2 separate regions of the Homo sapiens genome follow, and region 2 is linked to region 1. The links come from fine-mapping of genetic effects on gene expression. Tissue or cell type: whole blood. Region 1 holds a variant in brackets; the other region holds the start of a gene. All regions are shown on one strand. Distances are between the middles of the regions.

What was found.
Region 2: it holds the start of CPNE3, and the variant in region 1 is fine-mapped to the expression of CPNE3 in whole blood (INTERVAL, PIP 0.97).

What each region holds. Positions count from the first base shown.
Region 1 is chr8:86,480,695-86,486,077 of GRCh38, reverse strand. It overlaps RMDN1 (regulator of microtubule dynamics 1), which reads left to right. Exons shown (of 10, transcript NM_016033.3): 5 at 1,117-1,206. It also overlaps the pseudogene NTAN1P2. Among named protein-coding and RNA genes, the nearest start is that of RMDN1, 25 kb to the left of the region's middle. The variant A/T (reference allele first, on the strand shown) is at 2,823.
Region 2 is chr8:86,511,875-86,517,257 of GRCh38, reverse strand. It overlaps CPNE3 (copine 3), which reads right to left and starts at 2,823. Exons shown (of 17, transcript NM_003909.5): 1 at 2,717-2,823; 2 at 1,759-1,796. It also overlaps a transcript of RMDN1 not described here. RefSeq lists silencers at 2,315-2,654, 2,775-2,854.

The DNA of each region.
Region 1 (5,383 bases):
ACAACTGAGACCTAGAATGACTTTTCACATGTAACTTAGCTGCTTTCAGGATTTCTTGTTGGTTCACAACAACGTTTTTCAGTAAATCGTACGGGGAGACGAGGTGGTCATTAGCCTTCTGGATTGTTGGACTTCATAGAACCCAAAGGCAGGGTGAAGTTGGACCTTGGGAAACAATTGGCTTGATTGCTCCGAGGCTTCATTAATTGTTTCTCTACTCTGCTGTTACCTGAAAATCTTTTTCATTGCAGACATTTTTTTTCTCCTTATCCTAAGTCTTGTGACTTTCCACAGCACCTGGGTTTTTGAAGTGTGGCTATTTTAGATTCATTTCTTGGGAAAGAAACTCAGGTCATCTCAGTTTGGGTCTGCCGTCCAACTGTGGCTGTGGAGACAAGGTCACAGTTGACATTGTGGCTGTTCTTACTATAACAATGCAATGTGAGAGTAGATGGAACTCCAAGAAAAGAGAATGAGAAAATAAAACATTCAATTACATATTCTTCTAAATTGATACTCAGACCATAAACATGAACCATTATCTCATTGTGTTGGTAACTTTCTTGGAAAATTCACCACTTTCTACCTTGTATTATAGTTCTCTATAAACATGTCCTATCCCTGAGGTTTTTTTGTTTTGTTTTGTTTTGTTTTAGACATAGTCTCATTCTGTTGTCCAGGCTGGAGTACAGTGGTGTGATCTTGGCTCACTGCAACCTCCATCTCCCGGGTTCAAGTGATTCTTCTGCCTCAGCCTCCCAAGTAGCTGGGATTACAGGCACATGCTACCATGCCCAGCTAATTTTTGTATTTTTAGTAGAGATAAGGTTTCACCATGTTGGCCAGGGCCTCAAACTCCTGACCTCAGGTGATCCATCCACCTCGGCCTCCCAAAGTACTGTTACAGGCGTGAGCCACTGCGCCCAACCCTATTCCTGAGTTTCTAGAGGGCCATGTCCACTTCTCTTTATATATTCCATTACATTTAATACAGTTTTTATGCTCAGTAACTTTTTGTTGGATGAGAATGACTATTGAAGAATATTATACAGTTTTACCTTGTATTGAATGGAATATTAAGAATATTATTGTTCTTACACTTTTTTAAATTTTCAGTGGTATGCAATCTGCCTTAGTGATGTTGGAGATTATGAAGGCATCAAGGCTAAAATTGCAAATGCATATATCATCAAGGAGCATTTTGAGGTACTGATGAATTATTCAAATTCATGAATTTTAAAAGTCATATTTTTCTGAATAGATTTTTGTTTTCATTATCTATTGCTGTATATCAAACCACCTATGATAACAGTGGAGTAGAGCCATGACAGTTTGTTATTTCTTTTTTTTTTTTTTTTTGAGACGGAGTTTCGCTCTTGTCATCCGGGCTAGAGTGCAATGGTGCTATCTCAGCTCACTACAACCTCCGCCTCCCGGGTTCAAGCAATTTTCCTGCCTCAGCCTCCCGAGTAGCTGGGATTACAGGGGCACACCACCACATCTGGCTAATTTTTGTGTTTTTAGTAGAGGTGTGGTTTCACCATTTTGGCCAGGCTGGTCTCAAACTCCTGACATCAGGTGATCCACCTGCCTCGGCCTTTCAAAGTGCTGGGATTATAGGTGTGAGCCACTGTGCCCAGCCGACAGTTTGTTATTTCTTGCAATTCTTTGGGTTAACTGAGCGCAGTGGCACTTCTACATTGCTTGGTATAGCTGGGGTCATTTAGACAGCTGCATTCACCTGGGCCCTCAGCTGAGACTACAGTGTCCAAGATGGCCTCTTACCTATGAGAGTTTCTCCTCACTTGTTTTTTTATCACTTAGTTGTCTAGCTCAACCTTCATTATAGCATGGTAGTCGGCTTCCAAGAATGAGTGTTCCATGGGAAAAGATCCAATGTACAAAGTTCTAGCAAGCCTCTGCTTGCATCACACTTGGTAATATCCTGTTAATCTAAACAAGTCACAAGGGCAAGCCCAGTTTCTGTGGGAGGGGAGCATTGACACAAGTTCCTGAATATGGAAAGCGTGGTCCAGTGTAACAGTCTTTAACACAATTGACACACCACTCCTTGTAGTAATAATTCTATTTAAGATTGATATCTGTGTGTATATTGTATGTGTGTTTTATTAAAAATATTTTCCCCTAAAGTTAATTATTTATAGTAAGCTGTTAGGTGCAAAGAATTGCATAGGAGTCTGTATATTTCTTAACATGGATGAACTTCATTGTCTCAAAAAAAAAAAAAAAAACTACCACAAAAATACCAGCATATTTATTTCTCTTTTGAGATTATAGGAAGGAAAAATGATGGAAACATACATAGGGATAGTGCTGAATTTGCTATTTAAATAGTTTTTCATAATTTTATGGTTTAGTGTCAATTCCTAGTTTATATAACAACTAGTGAAAAAGAATGACTGGGAGTCCAGAGACCTAGCTTTTCTTGTTCAGGTATGGATAGTAATATATACATAATAACTGACATTTTATAATGTAACAATTTACCTGTTTCACAGTTTAAAATCCTTGAAATGAGATTACATGATGTAATTGCTGGAACCTTACATTGTAGTTGGCAGTGATACTTTCTTTCTTAGTGGCACATAAACTAATGGTGTGTCATTTTTGATATTTTAGATTCAGGGAAATACAGTAATTTTCTCAGTGGCATTAGATAAATTGCTTAATTTCTCTGTGCCTCAGGATGTAGAAATACATGACATAACTTCCAAAGGGAATAATGAAGAACTGTAGAAAATACACAAATGTATACTTTCCATTTTTTTAAAAAACAGTGAAGGTTATAGATTATAAAAAAC[A/T]ATGTTTTATATAAGCTTTCAAATGTACATGTTTATATTTTAAATGGCAATATTTAGTATTTACATATAAAAAAGATCATTTATACTGCTTACATTTCAAATTCCATTATATATCTAAAGTGGTAACATCTTTGGATTATTTTTGAAAGACCAGTGGCAGGAAGGATTGATTATAAAAGAGTTTGCTTGAAAGTACCCCTCTCAACCCTTCTCATAAGAAAATTAAACCCTGGCCTGGGCGGCTGCCTCCACGATGCCACTGCTCATCGAGGGGCAGCGAGTGCGGCTGCCACAGTCCGCCGGGGACCTCGTCCGAGCCCACCTGCCTCTGGAGGAAACAGCCAGATGTATCAGAGGTCAGTCTGTTCAACAACTGGGACCCCAGGGCCTTCTGTATGTTCAGCAAAGAGAGCTCGCAGTGACCTCCCCAAAGGATGGCTCCGTCTCCATTTTGGGTTCTGATAATGCCACTACTTGTCACATTGGGGTCCTGTTGCACACAGGTTATGGCGCCACCTGCTTGACACATTGTGATGGAACCGACACCAAAGCTGGGGTCCCCTTGATCATGAACTCCATAAAGTCTTTTTCCGACTGCGCTCAATGTGGAAGCCTGGAAGTATACCTCGTGGGAGGCTTCAGTGATGTGGGAGGCAGTTGTCACAAAAACTCACTCATTAACTTCTTAGTGAATTTGACAGGCAAGAAGATGACATTCACTTAGTGATACTATGATTATGTGTGACAGAATTAAATGACCAGGAAGAAAACGAATAACACTTTCTAATAATATATGGCATTGCTGTCAACTTAAGACTGCAAAGATTTACAGAGCCTCCTTTCTTTTTTTTGTTTGAGACAGAGTCTCCTCTGTTGCCCAGGCTGGGGTGCAGTGGTGTGATCTCGGCTTACTGCAGCCTCTGCTTCCAGGGTTCAAGTGATTCTCCTGCCTCAGCCTCCCAAGTAGCTGGGATTACAGGCGCCCACTGCCACACCTGGCTAATTTTTATATTTTTAGTAGAGACAGCGTTTCACCATGTTGGCCAGGCTGGTCTCAAACTCCTGACCTCAAGTGATCTGCCCACCTCAGCCTCCCAAAATGCTGAGATTACAGGCATAAGCCACCGTGCCTGGCCTACAGAGCCTCCTTTCAAGATCGAGGTCCAGAGGAGCAGCTGCGTGCCGCGTGAGCTTTAGCAGGAGGACCAGTGATTAGCATTTACGATGCAAAGACAGAACAACTTCGTATAGGACTGTACTCCTGGACACCATTTCCACATGTGGATTTCTGCTTGCAGCAAGATGACAAGCAAATACTAGAGAATCTTTCCACTTCGTGTCTGGCCGAGCCACCCCACTTTGTTGAACATATTAGATCTACCTTGATGTTTTTAAAAAAAAATACTGCTCCAACTAACACACTGTTTCCTGGAAATAAAGCCCTACTCTACAAAAAAAATGAAGATGGCTTGTGGGAAAAGATCTCTTCTCCAGGAAGCTAAAAAAATAGGAATTACCAAAGAAAGCAGAACCTTCTTGGCCTGACAGAGACCATTGGTGGGGCCAGCAAGAATCCAAATTTGGAACCTACATCCATTGGGTCTTAGGTCTTCTCCTTCCTTCCTCAGTGTTTTTCAAATGACTTTCAAAATAAAACCTTATTTTGGCAAAGGCAAAAAAAAAAAAAAAAAAAAAGGAAAATTAATTAAACCCTGATCCCCCCAGGCATCCATTGTGATGAATTAACTTCCTTCCTATGCATCTAGAATGGGACTACAGTATTTCTGTATCATTCTTAGGAAATAGAAAAAAATAGTTACTTACACAATTTTTTTGTAGGGCTTAATTTTTAGTGGAACTCCCAATTGAGAAAGGTTGCTTAGAGCATAAGTTGCATATAAACATGTTAAGATACTTATTTATTTTTTACCACAACCTTATGAGTTAAGTACATGACTTTTCCATAAAAGAGAAAAAACTCAGTTGTGGTAAGAATATAGATCTTGCAACCAGTTCAAGGTCATTAAGCTGTGACTTGAATCCTGGCAGTCTGGTTTCAGAGACCATGCTCTTAACCATTACAAATATTTGAAAATGTGTACCTCACACATTACTAAACTGAAAGCAAAAGTGTGGGTTTATAGAAAAGCATAAACTAGGAAATCTTAATTTTTTCAAAAAGAGTCCTTTTAATATGAACATTAATCTGTAAGATTTCTTTAGTTGTTTTCAACAAAATAATGGATAAAAGGAGGAACAGTTTCTTTATTCTGTAGTTTATATTCACATAGTAAATATAAATTAGGGAGATTCAACATATTTTACATTGCACATAATTATTCTATTAATATTCTATAAACTGTTTATTTTTCCTTTGGTAAGTACAGATGGGGAAGTTGAACAAAATCTGCATACAAGAAGACTTTCTAAAAATAGAAAAGACTTTCTAAAATCTGCATAGAAGAGACTTTCTAAAATTACATTTTTTCTAAAAAACTAAAATGCACTTTTCTTCTTTAGGAAAGAATGACTTTTATTCAGTATTCATCTACAGTTTGCCA
Region 2 (5,383 bases), 31 kb before region 1:
CACCTAATTCATATTGGTAAATGTGACCATAATACTGATGAATTTTAATGTCTTTTAAAAAGTTATGATTGCATACTGCTAAGCTGTTATATTAAAAGAATAAATAGTCTCTCCAAAAAAAACCCCAATACGATTCCCACTCACAAGCAAGAACAAGAAGGGAAAATATTGGTGGGAAGGAAGCTAGATTGTAGGCTGAAGGTAATGGTGGGTACAGTAAAGGAATGCTCTAGTTAGGACTCCTGCAGGTCACTGAGTACCACCAATGGAAGTGACATTGAGTCTTGCTAAAAGATCCACCTGAAATATCATGCTTTGGTGAGCAGTGGTGGCATTATGAATCTTTGAAGGTCAAATGACATATAATCATTTTTCACATCTAACATTAACTTTTATAGTTTTGCTAACAGGCATACTTTCTAGCATAATAAATCACTGACTAAAGAACATTTGAAAGGGAGGAAAAAAGAGAAAACTCTAACAATAGTAAGAAAAAAAGCCCAGTGATAGTACCAAAAAATAAAGAAGGCAAAGGAAACAATGGATAAGCCATACCAAGAATTGATAGGGCCGGGTGTGGTGGCTCACACCTGTAACCCCAGCACTTTGGGAGGCCAAGGCAGGAGGATCACTTGAGCCCAGGAGTTCAAGACCAGCCTGGGCAACATAGTAAGATCTCATCTTTATTATAAAATAAATAAATAAGTAAATAAAAGAATTGATAGGTGTTGGAGTACAATATGAACTAGGTACCGAAACAGATGCTGCAAGGGAAATACCCAGGGCAGCAGTGATACCATCATAAAGAGCATAGAAAATAAAATATTTTAAAATGTATAATAGGTTGCCATAAACTTATATGAAAATGAAGACCATTGTCTATAAAGTGTTCACAGTTATAGGTAAAATTAGAAGAGGTGTCCAGTCATTATGCAACCCTTAATGGCAAACACTCCTTCTGTTTCTCCCGTCCTGGAGCCTCCTCTCCCTTCCTATTCTTCAGGGACTAGACCTGAAAGAAGAAATCCTGAAAGAGAACTGCAGACTTCATTGTGGGGTTTGTGCCAGGCACCTTTTGGTCTGTGGGGTCCTAAAATTCAGCTCCACCTCACATCTAGAGTCTCAAAATGATCCAGTCCCAGAGTTTGAAATTTTTCAGCCCAGAGTGGGATGTATTTTTCCAATTCATCAGCCAAAAGGAACTGACCTATTAATAATTCTCGCAAAGGCAAAAAGTGGCCCTGGGTACCACAGATCAATGACTGAGACATCTATTGTTGTCACTATAATTGCCATTATATATGTCATCTGTTTTCAGTTCCCTTTTCGTTTCCCATCCTTTGCTGTTTCCCTCTACCTATGTTCTAGGCTTGCACAAGTTCTGTTTGGCTCTGGCTGGCAGCACACACAGAGAGCTAGTTTGCTGACCCTTATTAATGACATCAGGATATATGTGGCTATATATAGCTTACCACTAACTACGTGTCAAGCACTTTGCTAAATGTTTTACAAGTAGGATCTAATTTAATTCTCATAGCAACCTTGTGACATTTTATCTCTATTTCACAAATGCAGAAACAGGCCCTAAAAGGTGAAGTATCCTGCCCAAGGTCATACAGCTAACAGCCCTCATAGCATAGATTTGAAACCTAGGTATCTGGCTTATCCCAAAGAATAATGTTCTTTTACATTAAGCAATAAAGCCTGTGCCCTAAAACCATACGGACTTGAATTCCAAACCCTAATGCCACCACTTACCAGTTGTGTAATTTGATGAATTATTCAACCTGAGTTTCCTGGAGAATGAAACAGAGTAACATCACTTTAATAAGTGCTTGGGAGCGTTAAATAACCTAACATATAAAAACTGTCTAGCACAGTTGTTGTGGGACATTGAAATCAAGTCACAATATTCAATCCCGCCCTTCCCTCTATTTGATTATCCATTATAGAGGTGGCCTCACAAAGACAACACTAAGGATATGCAAAAAGTGCAGATGATCATTAAGTGCAACATAAATGGTTGATCTGCTCGGTCCCAACGGGTTCTGGCCGTGCGCTTCCTCCACAATCCTGGTGTAGGGAACCCAAAACACTAGACAGAAGAATCTTGAAGCTGGAGGAGAAACGGGAGCTGCTAGACTACTTCTCACAATCTCCTTGTTTACCCTGAAATCAAGAGTCACCTCTTCCCACTCCATCTGCCAGCTTCTCGGGTGCTCTGAAGCGCGCGCCCCCCGCTCAACTGGGCATTGGCTTCACCACGGACGTGGTGTGGGTACCCTATCCCTCTCCCCGCGTGGTGCTGCAGCGATTTCGGGACCTGTCACCCTTCTCTGGGCCACAAGCCCGACCCTCTCCGCCCAGGGAAGGAGGGCGGATCCCAGCCTATCCCCAGCCCCAGGTGCGCGAGCGCCAGGCCCAGGCGGGGCCTTGCGGCCCGGAGCTGAGCCCCGAGCCCGGGCTCCTCCAGGAGGCGTCGGCGGTGCCTGGGTCCAGCCAGGCCGCGACCTAGCTCGGGAGCCTCCCCGCGACCTGCCGATCCCCAGCTGCGCGAAGCCCACGGAGCACTTCCAGCAGCAGGGCCCGGCGGGACCTGCCGCACGGAGCCTGCGGGCTCGGATCCTCCAGGCCAGGACTTTCCTTTTCCCCCGGGCGGTACGGTTGCTGGGCTGCTGCCTCACCGGCCCAGGAACTGGGAGACGCCCGCACTCACGTGGGAGTCTTAGAGGTGGAAGTCGAGCGACGGTGGAGAACAGGTTGGCAGCGTCCGGAGCGACGCTGGGACCGCAGGGATTCAGGAGAACCTAGGGCTGGACTGGCAGAGCAAGGGGGCGGGGAGGGGGCGGGGATGGGGCGGGTCCAGTGCGCGCCCGCCCCGCACAGCCTGCGCGAGGATCAGCCCATCCGCAGGGAGCTGACTCCGGGCTGCATGTCAGCTCCTTGCCAGTAGGCTGGCGCTTCGAGGCCATTCTGGAGGCCAGTCGCTTACTGAAAAGGCAAAACTGACTTTAAGGTAAGTGGTTTGGTGCACCAAAATAAATTCCTTAAGGATTAAATAATTTAAATATTTGAGAAAATTTATGCCATATCTGAACTGAGAAGACTGGGCGCAGTGGCTCACACCTGTAATCCAAACATTTTGGGAGGCAGAGGTGGGAGGATGGCTTGTGCCCAGGAGTTGGAGACCAGCCCCAGCCTGGGGCAAAAAAATGAGACCCCCTCCACCGCTACAAAAAGTAAAAAAAAAAATAGCTGGGCGTGGTGGCACGCGACTGTGGTCCTAGCTACACAGGAGGCTGAGGCAGAAGGATCACGGGCTCAGGCTGCAGTGCGCCATGTTCGTGCCTCTGCACTCCAGCCTGGGTGACAAACAGACCCTGTCTTAAAAAAAAAAAAAAAAGTTACCAAGACAAATTATCAACATGAAAATAGCGAAATACATCTTAGCTGTTAACCATGCTTATATGCTTATTTAGGGCATTCTTAATGTGCACACTACCAAGGACATTTTATATCCTTCATTACCTTTAATCCTCATGATTCTGTGATGTATTTGGTGCCAGTATACCCATTTTACAAATGAAAACTGCAATTGAGTAACATGAGATTTGGAAGCTAAATAATTGGCCTACTTTTCTGAAGTCACACAAATTGTAAGTAAACTAACCTCAAAGTGCAGGCTGGACTGCTTGCTACTCCATGCTGCCTGCAGCTAAACAAAACACTATGGAAAATATTGATACATGACTGCTCGATAATTTAGAACTTCTTCCCAAGGAAACAGGGACAAAATCAATAAAACACATTGGGAAAAATATTGGTCCCAAACCTGACAGAGTTAGTATCTTAAGTTCATTTATTTTTTATTTTTATTTTTTTGAGACGCAGTTTCGCTCTTGTTGCCCAAGCTGGAGTGCAATGGCGCGATCTCAGCTCACCACAACCTCCGCCTCCCGGGTTCAAGCGATTCTCCTGCCTCAGCCTCCTGAGTAGCTTGGGATTACAGGCATGTGCCACCATGCCCAGCTAATTTTGTATTTTTAGTAGAGCCAGGGCTTCTCCATGTTGGTCAGGCTAGTCTTGAACTCCCGACCTCAGATGATCCACCCACCTTGGCTTCCCAAAGTGCTGAGATTACAGGTGTGAGCCACCGTGCCTGGCCTCTTAAGTTCATTTAAATTGATAAGAAAAAAAAAAACACCCAATAGAAAAATGGGTGAAGGTTTTTTTTAATTACAGAAGAAATGGAAAGGGTATCAAATGAAGAAACACAGACATTCTTAAGTAAAAACTTTACTCTTAATCCAAGAAATGCAAACTAAACATTTTTATTTTATTTATTTTTAAGAAATGGGGTCTCACTATGTTGCTCAGGCTGGTGTTGAACTCCTGGGTTCAAGTGATCTGCCAGCCTTGGCCTCCCAGAGTGCTGGGATTACAGGTGTGAGCCACCGTGCCTGGCCTGCAAATTAAACATTTTTAAAATCGTATCAGTGCCAGTGAGGATTCATTCATTTATTCAACAAACACTATGTGCATTGCTCTAGACTTGTGAGCAAGACAGACAGGAACTTCTATCCTAGAGGACGGTTGAATCTTAAGTTAGTTGTTAAAGACAAATGAGATTTCAGCCAGCCAGAAGTGCCATGAGAAAAGTTAAGGCAGGGTGATGTGATAGAGGGACTTGAGGATAGTGTGAGCTTATTTAGACTGGGGATCTGAAAAGAGCTCTCTAAGATGGTATTTGATCTGAGATTTGAAAAATAAGCAGCAGCCAGTTATGCAAATATCTGGGGCACAGGAATGGTAGCAGGGGCAAAGATAAGAACAAACTGCCAGTGCAGAAACAAGGCCTTTGTTGCTGAAGTGTACTGGGGAGGTACTACAAGTGTTTTAGTTTTTACTAAAGGTTTCTGGCTCTATTTTTGATTCTACTTTCACATGTAAATGAAGGTTCTTAGGCACCACTAATTGGATTGCAAGTTTCAAATTTTCCAGAATATATAGTATCCATACCTAACCTTCAAAACTTTTCTTTACACTAAAATAGGGAAAGAGTAGAGGCAAGGGGATGGTTTTGTACTTTTAGTATCCAAACAGCAATCTATCATCTAAATACATAGTGCCATAGCTATTCAATGTATTTATTCATTTTCCTTAACTACAGTCTAAATCCCATTCTACTTTTGTTCTCATTCATTCACCCATTAATTTAACATGTGTTGAATTCATGTTAGATACCAAGCCTAACAAGGTTCTAGAAATAAAACACCACCTGGTGGAGAGTTAAATGCATGTTAAAATGAAAGATATTCACAAAATATTCTTTCTCCTATGTATTTTGATCCTCATATTTCTACCTTCACTCTTTCAGTCACAT